Linked DNA regions of Homo sapiens: region 1 is linked to region 2. A link means that fine-mapping ties the variant in region 2 to the expression of a gene that starts in the linked region. Tissue or cell type: whole blood. Region 2 holds a variant in brackets; the other region holds the start of a gene. All regions are shown on one strand. Distances are from middle to middle.

Region 1 (2,915 bases), 36 kb before region 2:
CCTCATTCTGTCACTGCCACTCACAGGGCCTGGAGAGCTGTGTCTGTTTCTGGAACCTCTGAATCACAGCCTCCTTGGGTTCTTCTGAAGGCACATTGCACCTTCTAGAAGGGTATGACTCAGAAGGAAAGAGAGAAAAACCTCTACTGGCAAGAGGAAATGGCTGCAGTGTTTACTTTATCTGAAAATGGCACACGCTTTTATTAAGACATAAATGCCAGTGATGGATTCTGCTCTTGGCGTGTGGCTGTGCTCCCCAGCCCTGAGGTGAGATGGTCAGGAGATGTGAGACCCTACAGAGAAAATATTTACCATGCTGAGCTGTCATGAGACAGAGTAAGTGGGCAGAGGGCAGCTGGTTCCTTTGACCACCTCATTCTAGGGAAAATAAACAGGGACCCTGGAGCAGTCACTAACAGAGGGGAGCAAGTATCCTCTCTCTGCAGTAGAATCTCTGAAAATTCGGATAACGTTAATTGTGCCACTGTGGTGGCAGTGCAAGAAATTCCTGTTCATCCCGCTGCAATGATGATTAAGGTAACAAACACCCAGTCGGGAAGTCAGGCTCCGGCCCTGGAGAATAGTTGAGGATCGCCTGTAGCATATTGTTCCACTCTGCTGGCATCCTAACTAGACAGCTTTAGTTTTAGCATAAAATCCATATTCCAGACCTTTATGGAGCAGAGAGGCAAACTCCAATGCTGCCGTTGCAAGCATCAAACAGCATTAGAATGAATTAAGGAGATTTAAGACTCTCGATGCTGTCGGGGCTCTTCTCCATCCCCTCTGTTTTCTCCAAGGAGCTGTTTTAAAGGCGTGGGGGGCAAATTGGAAGAAGGGAGTGGGAAAAACGCAAACCAATCACGCTAACCTCGCTCCGGAATCGAAGTCTGACTCTGTACCACGCATGGATTTAATTGGGAGAGAGGTCTTTTAGAGACACTCTGGGTGGGTGCATAGATCAGTCTGGAGTTTCACAGTACGGCTTCTTCCAAGGTCAGAGCATGTGTCCAGGGTCTTCCCCGCTTCCTGGTGGACGGGAAGGCGTCTTCGGTCCGGTGGTTGACAAAAAATCCAAAGAGGGCGTCAGATGTGTGCACTCTGGTGTTTGGAATTTAAGTAAAATCTGTAATTTTCCTCCTGCATTTCCTCAGAGAAATTAGCTATTCTATTCACTGCATAAATTTTCAGGTTTTGCTAGCACGACACTCAGGGTGTTGAATTTTTTATGACAAAAATGCTGTAATAATTGTTGAACAGATGTAAGTGTTGGAGACTCGGCTCTGGCAGACCTCACGAAACCTCGATTAGCAATTTAACCCTGTCCTCCCTCCTGTCCGCACGCCGGGGAAGAGGAGTTGCAGTTTTGAATGGCTTCACTGGGATATGCACAAAGGCAGAGAAAGAGTTTTCTGGAGAGCAGGGGAAGTCCTTTAACGAGCTCTTATGCCCAGCCAGAAAAGGAAGAACTCGGTGCAGCCTAACCCTGAAATTACCACATTACCAAGTTGTCTAGCTGGGTGATTAATAAACTAATTGACACGGGGGACACTTGTCACTGGCGAAGCAGCTCCCTAGCCAAAGCGAGGAGCAACTACATAGCGTCTCCCGGGGAGCTGGGAAGTGACAGTCTACACCCGCTTCCGGGCTCCCCGTGACATAGGCCAGCCGGGCCTCCATTTACACCTCAAAGCAAAGTCACAGAGGGATCCGCCCCTTTCCTGGCTGCCTACACAGAAAGCAGCCATGGGAGACTTGCCGAGGACTTTGTCCACCAAGTGATGAAAGCATGCAAATGCCTCCGAATCAAAGGTAAATCAAAAGAAAATGGCAGCCCGCAAGAGGAGGCGGCGGTGACAGCCCGTCAGCCGTACAGCCACCCGACAGGCCTGGTGGCAGCGTGGAGGCTGCCAAGAGAACCGCCTGAGGAGGCTGCCGCCAAGACAGATGTCACGGCGAGGAGGGCGCGCTTCCGTCGCTTTCGGCGGGGCCTCATGGAGCAGGAAGTGGTACTACATGTGCCACTTAAGAGAATAATAATACTAATAAAACTGGGCGTTGTGAAGGGGGAGAGGTGGGGGAGAAAGGCTGGTTAGAGAGAGAGAGAGAAGAGGGGAAAGGCATGTCACAGTGTTTGGTAAAGGAGGAACTGAATTGATGGCCATCCTGAAGTTTGTGTGTGTGCGCACATGTGCGTCCTTTAGCAGGCTGGCTTTCCCTAGGCGCTTACAGCATCTTGAGAGGCATTGTGCTGGTGGAGACGTGGGGTTCTGGTGACAGCTGTGTCTTTGCAAGAGAGGAGAGGTGACCACAAGGCCACAGAGGTCCTCTAGTTTTTATAGCCCTCTTTTCTGCCTTTCCTGGAAATTGACTTTTGGTTTCCTGCCAAGATTGGGTTGCCCATTATACAAAAAAGCAGACTCCTGCTTGGGGCATTGCAGAGTTGCAGAGATGGAGGGAGACAGAGGCAGGTGAGGAAAGCCTCAATGTCTGATTTTCTCTGTGTCTGCCTCTGTGTTATTTGCGGATGGGTCGTGAGCCCCAGCCCAGCAGCCCACGATATTCGGACCTTAAGTACTGAAAATAACCTACTCCCCTTTTCATGGGTATTTTAAATTAAAATTAATATATAACAGGCCAGGTTTAGTGGTTCACGCCTGTAGTTTTCAGCACTTTGGGAGGCTGAGACAGGAGGATCGCTTGAGCCCAGGAGTCTGAGACCCACATGAGCAACGTGACAAGACCCCATCTTTACAAAAATAAGAAATAAAAAAAATTAGCTAGGCATGTTGGCATGTGCCTGTGGCCCCAGCTACTTTGGAGGTTGAGGTGGGGAAGATCACTCGAACCTAGGAGGTTGAGGCTGCAGTGAGCAGTGATGGCACCACTGCACTCTAGCCTGAATGACAGGGCGA
Region 2 (2,915 bases):
GAGAGGAAGTATTTGAAAAGCAAATAATAATAGAATAAATGAATAAAAAGAGATTCATAGCCACAGTTCTTATGGAATGCCTAATAGAATCTATAAGTAAAAAATCACTTAGACAACATAATTATATTTAAGTACATCAAAGGAAAAGAAAAAAGTGACAAGCTATCCAAGAGAACATACAGATCACCCATACAGAAATAATATTTAGATTAAAATCTTATTTCTTAATAGCAACATTGAATAGAGAATTATTTTCAAAGTGTTAAATTAAACTCACTTTTAAGTTGTAATCTTATACCAAGCTAAACTATCTCTCAACACACAGGCAATATAATGATATTTTTAAGTGAGTAAAGACTCAGAAAGTTTACTACCCCATCATGCCCTCTCTGAAAACATCCTTGAGAGAAGGGCACCTGAAGGAGGATGTTTTGAAAAATATGGATATTAAGGATGAGCACATAGATTGGTAAAATTTATTGCACTAAGTTTTACCCATGCACACACATGTCTGTGTGTGTTTAAAGTAATATCCAAAAAGAAGGAAGTAAAAAGATAATCTACAACATAAAAAATACAGTTAAAATTCTACATAATATAACGTAATACCATCAAGTTTCCTGTGGTGAGAGGAGGGAATGGGGTTAGGAATAATGTCTGGGCAACTAGCAAAAGGTGAAGACAGCCAAAACCTTTTTATTCTGGAGAAAGCTCTTGATCTAGGTTCTCTCTGGTTTGTCCACCATCACAAAGCCTGGTTTTACATCCTGGCTTCTCTATTCTATGCCTGTGCCACTTTCTGGACATTTCTCCAATCCTTGGTTTCTCATCTCCAAATCCTGGATAATGAGGCCAGCCATGATAGGTTATTCATGGAACTTTGATATAGAGCCTGGCTCCCACTGGATGACAGCCCTAGGTACTGTACAGATGTTAGCCCTCTTTGTCACAACCCAGAAAAGTATCCTTTTTGACAGTAAAAATGTAGCTTATGTGTCATCCTCTTTCCCAGACCTTGGCACAAGGTATGCAGCAGTAGGACACTCTTCTCATCTTTGGAGGCTGAAGTAGCTTAGAGGTATAAAGGGGTAAGTCAGATCTGAAAATCCAGTTTATTTCATTCAATTTTGCAAATACAATTTACAAACTTGCCTTTTCAACCAAATATGTGTATATGGCTGAAGAAATCGGGGCTCCTGCAGTGCCATTAATTGCCCAGTTTGTTTCTTGGGAGTAGAGCATGGGCACTAACACATGTTCATTAGACGTCTTAATTGGAAGCAAAAATCACCATGGACACCATGGACACGATTTAAAAAGAGTAAAGCATGCTGGTCAGTTTTCATTTGGATTTTGTTTTATTTCATTTTATTCCCAATTCTCCCAAAGCCCAGGAACAGCAGTTCACGATAAAAAATAATGGCCTGAGAAATGTCCTTCTGTAACATCCCCACAGCTG[T/C]GTGAGTTTGCATAACTCGAATGTGCCTAGTGGGACCCATTTTGTTCTCTGGCCCTGCTGAGAGTGAGTTGGGGTGCCTACATGTGAGTGGCTTGGATCCCCACAACTGCTACCCTGGCACAGCCCAGAAGATGGTCTTAAGAGAACAATATCTTCCCTTTTGCTTCTCTGCTTTATTGCACTTGTTCAAGTGACAGCATTCCAGAGTTCCCATCCTCTTGTCTGGATGTCCTGCCAGGGGGCCCTTGAAAAAGTCTTTATATCTCCAAAGATAATAGAGCAACTTGCCACTGCCACTTGTCTTTCTACCCCCGCCGTGTAGATTTCCCCTGGATCCTGGAATGACAAAAGGTTCCAAACGTGATAAAGGACTTCAATGGGATTGGACACGAAGAGGTGTGCGGCAAGCCCTCCTATCTCTTGGCACTTTTCTCTTTATTCTTTGATTAAAGTCTTTTCCCTTACTTACATCCCCCATTAAGATGTCTCAGTGTCATTTAGGGTGTTAATTGAGAGGAGGTTTAAGCTCATCAAAGCGATTATAAGTGATAGTTAAAAATTTCTATATATGGCCTGTGCTGGAATCGGCACGGTGGGGTGCCATTTTTTCTTTTATCCAACTGACATTGGTAATAATAGATGAAATTATTACTAAATCGCAGCTGCAGAGATGATATCATGATTTTTTGTGTGTAATCTTTGATGAAAAATTAATTTTTGAGAGGGATAATTTAAAATGATTTAAATAGTATTATACTGAAGTCCTTGCTGGTAATTAACACCAATCTTGTCAGAAGGGAAACCACTTTTGCAGCTGTTTCTAAAGATACCTACAGTATTTGTAACTTTTCTGCGAGTAAAATTATAGTGTTTGGACTTTATTTTTACTGCACAAGGACCATTAGAAGAAAAGGCGTCAGATAGAAACCTTTGTTCTCTGAGACCTGAGTCCTGTTTTGTATTTGAAGGCCCTGATCAATGCCTGTTTAATCATCGCTAGACTATGGACCAGAGTAAGGCTGGGTCTTTATTTTTATTTTTTCAATATATAAAAGTATTCATAGTGGATGCTGCATACATACCTCTCTTTAGTTCTTAATTATTAGTTACGTAAGAGCATACTACTTGATGTGCACAGGATTTAATTAACAGAACAGATGGCTGCTGGTCAGAATATTCCTTCATCTTCATCAGTGCCTTGACTTTCTTCAAAATCCACTTCTTTCATCATGGTGGCAAAAGCTTTCTAACATGGAACAGCTGAAAATAGATTTTTCTTCACTAGTTTCTTCATACTTTAAATGACAGAAGTGAGAGAGTGAGGGGTGTGTGTGTGTGTGTGTGTGTGTATTGTGTCCTACGTATAAAGACCAGCAAGAGAATAAAAAAAGAAATATAGTGAAATTTAAATAGCAAAAAAAAAAAAAAAAAATTGAATGAGAAAGTGGGATAACTG

What was found.
Region 1: LINC02325 starts here. The variant in region 2 is fine-mapped to the expression of LINC02325 in whole blood (INTERVAL, PIP above 0.99).

The regions. Positions count from the first base shown.
Region 1 is chr14:97,457,116-97,460,030 of GRCh38, forward strand. It overlaps LINC02325 (long intergenic non-protein coding RNA 2325), which reads left to right and starts at 1,701. Exons shown (of 5, transcript NR_110166.1): 1 at 1,701-1,812.
Region 2 is chr14:97,493,367-97,496,281 of GRCh38, forward strand. The region is part of intron 1 of LINC02325 (long intergenic non-protein coding RNA 2325); the gene reads left to right. Among named protein-coding and RNA genes, the nearest start is that of LINC02325, 36 kb to the left of the region's middle. The variant T/C (reference allele first, on the strand shown) is at 1,460.